3 linked regions of the Homo sapiens genome follow. The protein of the gene in region 1 interacts with the protein of each later gene in a pairwise test. Each region holds a gene or a part of one and is shown on either strand. Other genes may lie near its edges.

Evidence for each region.
Region 2: the proteins of BOD1L2 (region 1) and LHX4 interact in binary tests that used the Homo sapiens proteins (3 or more experiments, as listed by UniProt).
Region 3: the proteins of BOD1L2 (region 1) and CRX interact in binary tests that used the Homo sapiens proteins (3 or more experiments, as listed by UniProt).

What each region holds. Positions count from the first base shown.
Region 1 is NC_000018.10:57,145,605-57,149,991, forward strand, and holds the start of BOD1L2 (biorientation of chromosomes in cell division protein 1-like 2), read left to right. Parts: upstream 1-1,482; 5' UTR 1,483-1,708; coding exon 1,709-2,227; 3' UTR 2,228-4,387. UniProt on the Homo sapiens protein: May play a role in proper chromosome biorientation through the detection or correction of syntelic attachments in mitotic spindles.
Region 2 is NC_000001.11:180,233,197-180,236,847, forward strand, and holds part of LHX4 (LIM/homeobox protein Lhx4), read left to right. Parts: intron 1-3,651. UniProt on the Homo sapiens protein: May play a critical role in the development of respiratory control mechanisms and in the normal growth and maturation of the lung. Binds preferentially to methylated DNA.
Region 3 is NC_000019.10:47,835,424-47,839,074, forward strand, and holds part of CRX (cone-rod homeobox protein), read left to right. Parts: intron 1-819; coding exon 820-971; intron 972-3,651. UniProt on the Homo sapiens protein: Transcription factor that binds and transactivates the sequence 5'-TAATC[CA]-3' which is found upstream of several photoreceptor-specific genes, including the opsin genes.

The sequences.
Region 1 (4,387 bases):
TTTGTTCCAGGCACCATGCTAGGTGTGCATGTTGCATCTAAGTTCCCATGGAGCTTGTGTATGTCCTCAATGGTTTTCTCTGTCAACATCTCCCCTCTCCAACTAGATTGTAAGCTTTTCAAAGGCTGGCCATGTTGCCTGTCTTAAACAACAGCCACAGCAAACATTTATTGAGTGTTAGACTGGGCCAGGCACGTGGAGAGCTCCATAAAGCTTAGCACAGGGCCACATCGACTAGTCCCTCAATAAATATTGATTAATTTAAAAAAATACAGAACTGAATTGTCGAGCTGATCATGGGGATGGTGAGGAGCATAGGTAGGGGGTTGCTGTGGTGAAGTCTTGGTAGGTTCACTGTCTCCTGTGGGATGAGATTCAGAATACGTCCATCTGAGGCATCTGTACTTGTATGTCAGAAGCTATGGGGTGAGGTTATTGACAGAGTCTGTTGTGTAAACTTTCTTTGTGAAATATACTACCTTTAAGCTATGTTACGGCTTATAGAACAATGTGGTGTCTACATCTCAGGGGCATTTTAATTCAGGGAAGTGAGTGTTGGGGTGAAATCAGGGATCTGCTTTTCTTTTGAAATATTGATAGAAGGTTCTTTCTGTGCACCTGCACTTCTCTATTGGATGGCGCTGGATGTGGTTGCCTTTTGTGGCTCTTGGTTGCAATACAGTTCTCTTGTTGAAATGACCTCCTTCTGACTGACACATCTGCCCTAGGCTCATCAATGGCTACCAAAGCCAATGGACACCTTGTGGAACATAGTGTGGCATTTCACCCATGGCCTTCATGAAATGTACCTTTTGCGGTCTATGATCCAAGGCTTTTGTAGTTTTCCCTCCATCTTTTTAGTGTTGTTCTCAGTCCCCCTCATGGGCTCTCCAGGTGTTCCTCTATCTCTTCTAAGTTCTCCATTGTAATTGCCACCTATAGTCTCTACCTTCAGTGAGTTAGATGTCTCTCCCCAGCCCCTAGTCCTTGTATCTTTGGACTTCATAGGCAGATGTCTGCATCTGAATAACCCATACCCATCTTAAACTAGTAAATAAAAATGGAATGCACGATCATGTCTCTGTCTCCCATCCTCACCTCTATACCTGTTCTCCATTTAGTAAATGGCACCTCCATGCACCTGCCCAAGTGAGAAGCCTGGGGGTCATCCTTGACCCTCTCCTTTCCCTCGTCCCTCACCCCGTTGTTCTCCAATCCCTGGGATGAGTCTATCTCCTAAATATCTCTTGTATCCCTGTTACCTTCTTCACCTGCCAGGCCACGAAGATCATTCACTCCTCGCCATCTCCTTCTTAGGGCACTGAAATGGTTGCTGAAATTGTCTCCCTGTTTCGCCCTTGCCCACTGGCATTTGTTTCCCACCTCCCTCTTAGAGATCTTTTAAGAAATGCAGATTACGGTTCCCGCCTCACAATGCAAAGGTCAACGGTGACGCCATCTGGAGCGCGCTTGGAATCCAGCAGGCGGTTGCTGCCGCGTCTTCCACAACCTCCGCGGTCTGGAGCTGGCCTCCCCCACCGCCGCCCCAACCACCGGCCCCGCCGCCATCACCACCACCGTCACCTCCGCCGCTGCCTCCTTGGGGCCCTCCTCCTTCACCGCCCCCTTAGCCACCTCTACACATTCTAGGCTTTCTGTCCTGGAGAAGAAGCTATAATCGGTTTCCTTGTGGGCCCGGTGCGCAGCCATGGCGGACGGTGGCGGCGGCGGCAGCGGCGGTGCGGGCCCGGCCTCGACCCGGGCCAGCGGGGGCGGCGGCCCCATCAACCCGGCCTCGTTGCCCCCTGGCGACCCTCAGCTCATCGCTATCATCGTGGGGCAGCTCAAGAGCAGGGGCCTTTTTGACAGCTTCCGCCGGGACTGCAAGGCTGACGTGGACACCAAGCCAGCTTACCAAAACCTGAGCCAGAAAGCGGATAATTTTGTGTCGACACATCTGGACAAGCAGGAATGGAATCCTCCAGCAAACGACAACCAACTGCACGATGGTCTGAGGCAGAGTGTGGTTCAGTCAGGGAGGTCAGAAGCTGGAGTGGACAGGATTAGTTCTCAGGTGGTGGATCCAAAACTAAACCACATCTTCAGGCCACAAATAGAACAAATAATTCATGAATTCCTGGTGGCCCAGAAAGAAGCAGCTGTGCCAGCACTCCCTCCAGAGCCAGAAGGCCAGGACCCTCCAGCTCCGTCTCAGGACACTTCCTAAGAATATGCCTGACAGCTTTTGAAAGCGCTATTTAATTTTTGGTGAAGAAATGGATTCGGTTACATAAGAGTGCAGTTTCAGATTGAAGATAAGCCAAGTTCATCACTGAGCTCAAGATTTCCACCTCGACCATGAGCAGTGACCAGATTGAAAGGGAAGCAAGTTCGCCAGAGAGAAAGTTGACCGTGGCACCCTCCTGCATTGCGCTGCCATTTGGCCAGCCTTTCCAAGGGCATGACACCAAACACACACTACAGAGAGGGAAACACTACCGCGACCCAGGATTGTCCTGAAACAGACATCTATACTTGAACATGGAGACTGCACATGGATTTTAGGGTTTGTGCTCTGAGATAAACGAAAGCTACAGCGAGAGAACATAACCAATCCCAAAGACAATTTCAAAGAACAATGACAGTAAAGGTTAACTGGGAGGAATATTTGACAGTACTTATTTGATATTGTCTCTCAGAGTTGCAAACTAGATTGTACACAACATTAGTGTCAGATAGCTTTGAAGTTGTGACCTTCTTGTACATGAATCTTCTAGCCAGTTTCCTTTCCTTTGTAAGAGATAACAAAGCATGAAACCCTAGAATGAGTGAGAAGTTCAGACATTAGGTATAAGGAAACTCATTTGCAGACTCTCTGTCCAAGAATGCTTCCTGTCTTGCAGGGGCTAGTGAGTCTTGGGTGTGTTTATGTTATGCTCACATTTGTGTTTTATTTGAAAAGTGGATGGTCAATAAATGGCTTATCTTTCAACTGCAACAACAAAAAAGAAATGCAGATTTACATCCTTTTCCTCTTTAAGCTCCGTCAGTTTTCTGATATTTCTAGAAGGTCAGACACCTGGCATGGTTTATGAGGCCCGTGATAATGGGGCCCCTGGTCACCTCTGCTGCCCCGTACACTGTCATTTCTCATATGACAACCATGCCCATGACTATCCTGGACACCCTGTGTTCCCTCTGCTCACTGTGAAGGGAATGCCCTCAACCACTCCTACCCTCCTTTAAGACTCAGCTCCTGAGGAGCCACACATCGTCTAAGCAGGAGTGACAGACTCCTTCCTCTGTGCTCCCATAGATCTCATAAGGGATGACCACACTTACTATAGTAGCTAGGTCTGACGAAGCACTTGCTCTATTGCTCTACAGCTGGCAGTGTACTAAACGCTTAACTTCGCTTACCGTAGTAAGTCCTCATGATCTAATTGAAGAAATCGTATCTTTATTCCCATTTTTATTCCCATTTATAAATGTAGAAACCAAAGCTCAGACACTGCCTAAGTGGTGGGGCTGGGGCTGAGCCTGTATTGAGCACAGAGCCCTCACTTTTAACCCTTTTAACCATGCTTTTAGCCACACCACCTCACCACAGTGAACTGTCTTTGCTTACAGATCTGTCATCCCCACTTAAATGTGAGCTTCCTCCAGGGCAGGGATTTGCTTTGTTCATTTCTTTTCCTTAACCCCAGGACCTAGCACATCACAGGAGCTCAGCAATTTGTAGAAAGAAACCAGTTCTGGATTTGTCTTTTCCAACATTTAATTTCTCAGATGGCAGTATTTATCATCTAAAAAGTGAACAAAAATTAATTTTGCATCTAGTGTCTACATGTCTAAGCAAGAAAGAGCTTTCTTATCCCTGGAGGTATTTTATCTGTAATGTTTACCTATGAGCTATTTTAAATGATTCTTCAAAATTTAGAGTCCAGAAGGTAGAAGACCATGTCCTTTCTGAAAATGTCCCTTCCTTTCCCAGGTACCAGGCTCTTTTTAAAATTAGCTTCTGAATATGAACAACCCAGCTCTTTAAAGTTTAATGTCCCAGCCATTTTAATTGTTTCTTTCGAAGTACAAAAGAGCAGCTGGGCCACATCGGCACTAATCACTTGCCAACTTTCCTTTTTACAAAAACAGCTAAGCTCTTTCTGAGATTTAAAATCACTCCATCTGAGACCCCAGCTTGGCACCTATCTTTGCACTAACATAAAAGGAACCTAATTTCTGCTTTTAAGAAATGTGTTGCGGAAGTGATTTTTGGTTTGGGGTTTGTTCTCCTTCTTCTTTTTAAAAATAACGTAATAAAGTGTAATACAACTTTTAAAGTTTTTTTTTTCCTTTACCAGTTCTCTATTCTCCTTTTCTACTTGAA
Region 2 (3,651 bases), on another chromosome or scaffold:
GTAATAATTTCTCTCTCATCTCTGGTCTTGCTCCAGACTTGGCCTCTTCCTCGCCACTCTGTCCCGGCCTCCCGCCCCCGCAGGCTCCCGTGCGGACTTAGCAGTTCGCGCCGTAGCCCTCCTGGTTTTTTACCGCGCCTTGGTCGCGCGGCCCCCGGTGCGGGCCTCGTCGCTCCGACAGCCCTACAGCTGTCCCTACGGCCCGCACCGACAGCTCGTCCCCGCCACCTCCCTCCGGGCTGTAGGGACGTCGAGATCCGAATCCTCACAGCGCCTGACCCGGGGCCGTGTTGGGTACGGGTACGGCGAGAGCCTTCCGAGCCGCCTCCAAAACTCTCCCCGCGGACCTCAGCAGTCCCTCCACGCGTCGGGGCCCTGCTGGCCGGCCATGCCCTCTGAGGAGACGCGGAAAAGAGCGAGGCATATAGGAAGGTGGGGCGTTTTATCCGCCTCGGTTTTGACCCATCTGCCATGTAGTCTCCCCAGGCACCGAGGGAAAGGACGACGGAAGCCCGCCGCCCGGATCGCTGGCGGGAGAGAGGGCAGCCCGCACGGGAGAAGGAGGAGCCCCGCGGGGTCTCCGCTGGGGGTGGTAATTGGAATGCAGGCCTGGGGGTCTCTGTCCCCCTCCTTGTCTCCTAAAATGCTTCCGGCAAGCTCTGGCGAACCCCGAAGCTGTAGGAAAAAGGTATTTTATTTTGTGTTTGGTAGGGTCGGGGTAAAGGTTTTCCCTGGGACTTCCTCTCCTGGGGCTCCTCCGGGGTGCGTGGGGTAATGTCCCAGCGCAGGTCGAGTTGCAGATCCGAGTCCCCGGGGTTGTTGACTGTCCTTCTTGCAGGACATTTCTTAAGGGGGTGAGATGGATTCACTGTCCAAGACAGGAGTTCACTCAAACGCTGGTGCTGTTCGCTCTTCTTTCCATTCCTGCCTTGTCTCCTAGTGCGAGAAACAGACACACACAACACACACAAATTATATATATATATATATATATATATATATATATATATATATATATATATATAATAGATTGAGATTCTATCATATTCCGAACATTCCGATATAGCAGCTGTAGGCACCATAGACCTCCCTCCCTGCGTCGCGAGAATATATTCTCAGGCAGGAGACAATTTTTACAGATGAGGTCAGCTGTCCCCGCCGGCCGATTCGGGCCTGATGGGTTGGGGGTTCCGATGTCCTAACTGCTAGGATCCCGTTCCAGCCCCTGGCCAGAGCTGTGTACCACAAAGAAGGGAGTTTGGAGAAACCCGGGTAAGCGCGGCAGCGCCCCGCTTGGGACAGCGGATGGCTGAGGACTCCCAAGGGGCGAGAGGGCTCCGGCCTCCTCCTTTCCAGGGCCTTGTTATCTGAGAGGGCCGTTAGCACGGAGGGAAGCTTGGAAAGCCGCTGTCCCAGTGCGCTCCGCATGCGGAATTAACTGTTAAAGCCGGACACGGAGCACGCAGGTGCAGCAGGTGAGGGGCAAAGGTCTGCATTGAGCAGTCCGCAGTGTCCCGGGAAGTCGTAAAGTCGGGACTGAGAAGAAGCAGGACCTAACTCAAGTTTATTTCCTCTCTTGGCCGAGGTCCGGGCTCGTGGAAAACCAGAGCTAGGCGGGGCTACGCAGGGCTGAGCAGGAGTGGCGTCCTAGGGTCTGGGAGCGCGACCCACATGACCTCGCTACGACCGGGGCAGGGCTCCTCCGCCCCGCGGGCAGATGCCGGCCTGGGTGGCCCGGGGAACAGACGATGAATTCTTTAAATGAGCGTTTGCTGCGCACCCATGGGCGGCTCACGATCCTGGGCACTCGCCCGGGAATCCCGGGCGTGCTCTGGGTTTTGGGGGACTCGCCGGTGGAGGTAGATGTGGACAGGGCGGCCGGCCCTTCGCGGGTAGCCGGCTTTGCGCTTACTGCGTCCCGCAGCGGTGGGTAAAGGTCGTAGCCCAGAAGGGGACAAGGGAGGGACCGCCTCTCTCTCCCCGGTGCGCTGCAATAGAGGTTCCTGCGCCTTGGCCCTTGCAGTCCATCCGCCCAGAGGTTCGCGCCCGTTTTCGGAGCTTATTATCTCAGGTAGCCCAGAGGTCCGACTGAGCTGGAATTAGCCAGGCCTGGGACCCCTTTGCTGCCCTTTAGAGTGGTGGCAGGGACTTTTCCAGCAAGGATAGGCGCGGCAGGCGCGAGTGCGGACGGCGCGCCCATTAGGAGGAGGCCGGGTGAAAACCTCTCTTCCTCTCCAGACCCATTTCGTTCCAAGCATTTGGAATGACAAAATTAAACCCCAACCCTGGCGGCTCGAGTCTAATGTGACTGTTTAACCCTGGGAAAGCGATGCTCCCATTTTCGAAGGGGCTCCTCCTCTTCGGAGCGGGGAGGCCGCCGGCGGGTGTGCCCGGCCCGCGCGTTCTGCGGGTGTTCGAGCCTCGGCTCCCCACTCGGTTCCGCAGCTTAGTGGACCTTGACGAGCGCTGGAAACGTGTCAGGCTCCAGAGAGACAGAGTCTCTACCTAGGCGGCTGAGGATGTCAATTAAAATCGACCAGGGAAGGGAGTTGGCGGCACTGTGCGCCGCCGGGGAAGGCGAGGTGGCGCGGGCCACCGGGTGCACTCACCGCACGAGAGGCCGCGGCTGGACTGGGACCGAGCGCATCCCTGTGTCTCAGGGGGTTTGCTTTGTGCAGGATGGGACCTTATTATTTTTAGACAGTGGGGCAAACGTGTCTTTTAAAGAGATCCGAAGGGTGAAACTAATGAAAAAGGAAATGAATTACTAGAAAAGCCGTGAAGGGATAAAACCGGGAGCAGCAGGAAGTTGAAGGAAGGACGACCGAAGCTAGGTGTATCTGCACCTGCCTCTTGACACGCCAAAAACAAAGGGGGGTTAAGGCAAGAATGTAGACTAAATGCTGTGAGGATTAGGGTAACGCGAGCCCTCAAGACGTCTCGGAGACCGCCTACAGGGCTGCAAATACCAGGGTCCATTTTTAAAAATCGAGTGCTCCTAGAGGTGGGGTGGGGGTGGGAGAGCCGGGAAACCAGCAAAGCAATTTCTTTCCATTGAGTAGACAAAAACTTGGGCCACAGGGGCATCTTGTATTTTGAACAGTGACCCGATGACCCCGCTGGCCAGGTGTAGACAGCCTCAAGTCCTAAATATTTGCATTGTCCTAACTTCCCAGTTGCCTCGGATTTTAATGCCCTTTCACTCTGCGTTACAGTCAATTAGTGATTACTTAGCATCCACATTAGTAGACTGAAGCCAGAGACCCCAGTGCTGGGAGGAGAGGAGGAGCCGGGGGAAGGAGGATGGGGCTTGCAGTCCTGCAGGGATGGAAAATTAGTTAACAGGAATTAACTGTTCTTTCTATTACCTTGTTATGAAATCTGCTTTGAGCTTCTTGTTTTGGACGGGAATGGTGGGTATTTAGTGGATTTCTCTGGCTGGGAAACTTGTGTCCTCTTCCTATTGAAGAGTTGTGGATGGGGGGCGGGTAGGTGGAATCGGATAAAGGGACCTTGTGCCTTTTCTTTCAATTAAGGAAATTTTTCAGGAATAGAGCTGAGGAGCTTTGGGACGCATAGGGACTTGGAACCAGTTTAGCTGAAGAGAGGACAAAAGGAGTAATATTACCCACTTTGAGAAACCCACGGTTG
Region 3 (3,651 bases), on another chromosome or scaffold:
GCCCAGGCTGGAGTGCAATGGCGCGATCTTGGCTCTTTGCAACTTTTGCCTCCCAGGTTCAAGTGATTCTCCTGCCTCAGCCTCCCAAGTAGCTGGGATTACAGGCGCACACCACCATGCCCGGCCAATTTTTGTAAAGCCTTATTTTTAAGAGAAGTGAGTACTCAGTTATTTGTAGCATTATTCTTTAGCTCTTGTTTTTTTTTTTTTTTTTTTCAAGACCGAGCCTTGTTCTGTTACCAGGCTGGAGTGCAGTGGCATAATCTTGGCTCACTGCAACCTCTGCCTTCTGGGTTCAAGCGATTCTCCTCCCTCAGCCTCCCGAGTAGCTGGGACTACAGGCATGCACCACCACACCTGGCTAATTTTTTGTATTTTTAGTAGAGACAGGGGTTCCCCATGTTGGCCAGGATAGTCTCAATTTCTTGACCTTGTGATCTGCCTGCCTCAGCCTCCCAAAGTGCTGGGATTATAGGCGTGAGCCACCGCACCCAGCCCAGACTTGCTACTTTTATAGGCTAGAAACGGTTGAATGTCAGCAATGTCATGCTTCAACTGATTATGTCTTAGTGCATAAGAAAGTTTAGAAGAGGGAAAAACGACTCGCACACCTCCTTGTTGAGCTAAAGCCTTGGGGTCAGGCATGAGCCACAGAGTGCCAGGCACACAGTGAGGTGTAGAAGGGCAGGGAATGTGTATTCCATCCTTAGTTTAGGCAGATGGCAACCAGGATGGAATTCTTGGCATCCCACCCAGCCTCAGGGCCTCACACCAGCCCATGTGGATGACCTGAGGGTCCTGTTTCCCATCCCACCCCAGGCGCCCCCAGGAAGCAGCGGCGGGAGCGCACCACCTTCACCCGGAGCCAACTGGAGGAGCTGGAGGCACTGTTTGCCAAGACCCAGTACCCAGACGTCTATGCCCGTGAGGAGGTGGCTCTGAAGATCAATCTGCCTGAGTCCAGGGTTCAGGTGGGGTGGTGGGTCCCTGGACCCCTCCCGACACTTCCTGTGATCTCAGGAGGCCTGCCCGGAACAAAGAGTGATGGGAGGAGGGAGAGATCACAGAGTGACAGCCAAAGTTATAAAGGGGACAATAATCCCTCTCCCCACCATCCCACTGACCGCCTCATGGCTCTCATTGCCCCTCGCTCCTCTCCAGCTGCGCTGGCCCTGACCTGCCTGCCAAGCACCCTCCTGCCTTGGGCCTTTGCACTCAGTTTCCTCTATCTGGAATGCTTATTTCCAGATAACCACACAGCAGGCCCCATCGCCTTGTTCGAGTCTTTGCTTATCCATCAGTGAGACCCACACTGAACACAGCATTTAAAATTGCATATGATTTACATATGGTATCTCAGAGTCTGTTTATTTAGACTCTGTCTCTCCCAACTAGAATGTCAATTCCACTGACGGACACTCAGAGTAGTAGAAAATGGTTAATACATGTTTATTAACTGACTGAATAGACGGATGGATGGATGGGTGGGTGGATGCATAGATGAATGTATGTATGTGTGACTGTAGGTGTGCGTGTGCATGTATGACTGGAAGCATGGATGAGTGTATGTATGTGTATATATGAGTGTCTGTGTGTATGATGGGATGGATACATGTATATATGTGTGTTTGCATGAACGCACATAGGTATGATTAGATAGATGATGAATGTATGCATGCATGATATATGTATACGTGGTGTATGTGCACATGTATGTATACATGCTTGCATGATTGGATGGATGGGTATATTTATTTATTTGAAATGGAGTCTCGCTCTGTCGCCCAGGCTGGAGTGCAGTGGCATGATCTTGGCTCACTGCAACCTCCGCCTCCTGGGTTCAAGTGATTCTCCTGCCTCAGCCTCCTGTGTAGCTGGGATTACAGGCGTGTGCCACCACACCGGGCTAATTTTTGTATTTTTAGTAGAGATGGGGTTTCACCATGTTGGCCAGGCTGGTCTCAAACTCCTGACCTCAGGCAATCCTACTGCCTCGGCCTTCCAGAGCGCTGGGATTACAGGCGTGAGCCACCGCGCCCGGCCGGATGGGTGTATTTATGTATATATGAGTGTATGCATGTATATATGATTGGACTGATAAATAAAATGTGTGTGTTAGTATGATTGTATATAGGTATGACTGGATGGATTAATGTATATGTATGCATGATGTATGTGTGTATGATGTATGGGTGTATAATTGTATATTTGTATGTTTGTATAATCAGATGGATGGATGAACATGCATATGATGTATGTATGATTAGATAGATCCATTAATGCATGTATGATGTATGTGTGTATGACCTATGTTTATATAATTATATGTATAAGATGGATGAATCTATGTATGATGTATGTGTGTACAATTGTATGTATCATCAGATGGATAAGTCTATGTATGATGTATGTATGATCAGATGGACTGGTGAATGTGTGTATGACATATATATGTGTGAGGTATGTATATATGATCAGATGGATGTCTACATAATGTATGTGTGTATGGTGTATGTATGTATAATTGTATGCGTGTATGTTTGTATGCTGTAGGTATGATGTTACATATATGTGCATACACACGTGTGTATGATTGGAAGGATAAATGAAATATGTATGTTTGTGTGATTGTATGCACATATGATTAGATAGATTAGTGTGTAGCTATGTATGCTGTATGTGTGTACAATGTATGTGCCTATAATTGTATGTTTGTATGTCTGTATGATCAGATGGATGAATATGTATATGATGTATGTATGATCAGATAGCTGGATAAATGTATGCATGATGCATGTGTGTATGGTGTATGCATGTATAATTGTATGTATGTTTGCATTAGATGGATAAATGCCTGTAGGTATCATGTATGTACGCATACATGCATGATTGGATGACTGGATGGGTTTATTTGTGTATATATGAGTGTACGCATGTATATATAATTAGATGGATAAATGAAATGTGTGTCTGCATGATTGTATGTATGGATTAATGTGTATATATGTATGATGTATGTGTGTACAATGTATGTATGTATAATTGTATGTTTGTATGATCAGATGGATGGATGAATGTGTATGATGTATATATGTATGATCAGATGGCTCCATTAATGCATGTATGATGTATGCGTGTATGATGCATGTACACTTGCATGTATGATCAGATGAGCCAGTGAATGTATGTATGATGTATATGTGTATGATGTATGTATGTATGATCAGATAGATGGGTAAACGTATGCATGATGTATGTGCGTATGGTGTATGTATGTATAATTGTATGTGTGCATGTTTGTATTAGATGGGTGGATGAATATGTGTATGATGTATGTATGATCATATAGATGGGTAAATGCAGGCATGATGTATGTGTGTATGGTGTATGTATGTATAATTGTATGTGTGCATGTTTGTATTAGATGGATGGATGAAAATGTGTATGATGTACGTATGATCATATAGATGGGTAAATGTATGCATGATATATGTGCGTATGGTGTATATATGTATAACTGTACGTGTGCATGTTTGTATTAGATGGGTGGATGAATATGTGTATGATGTATGTATGATCATATCGATGGGTAAATGCAGGCATGATGTATGTGCGTATGGTGTATGCATGTATAATTGTACGTGTGCATGT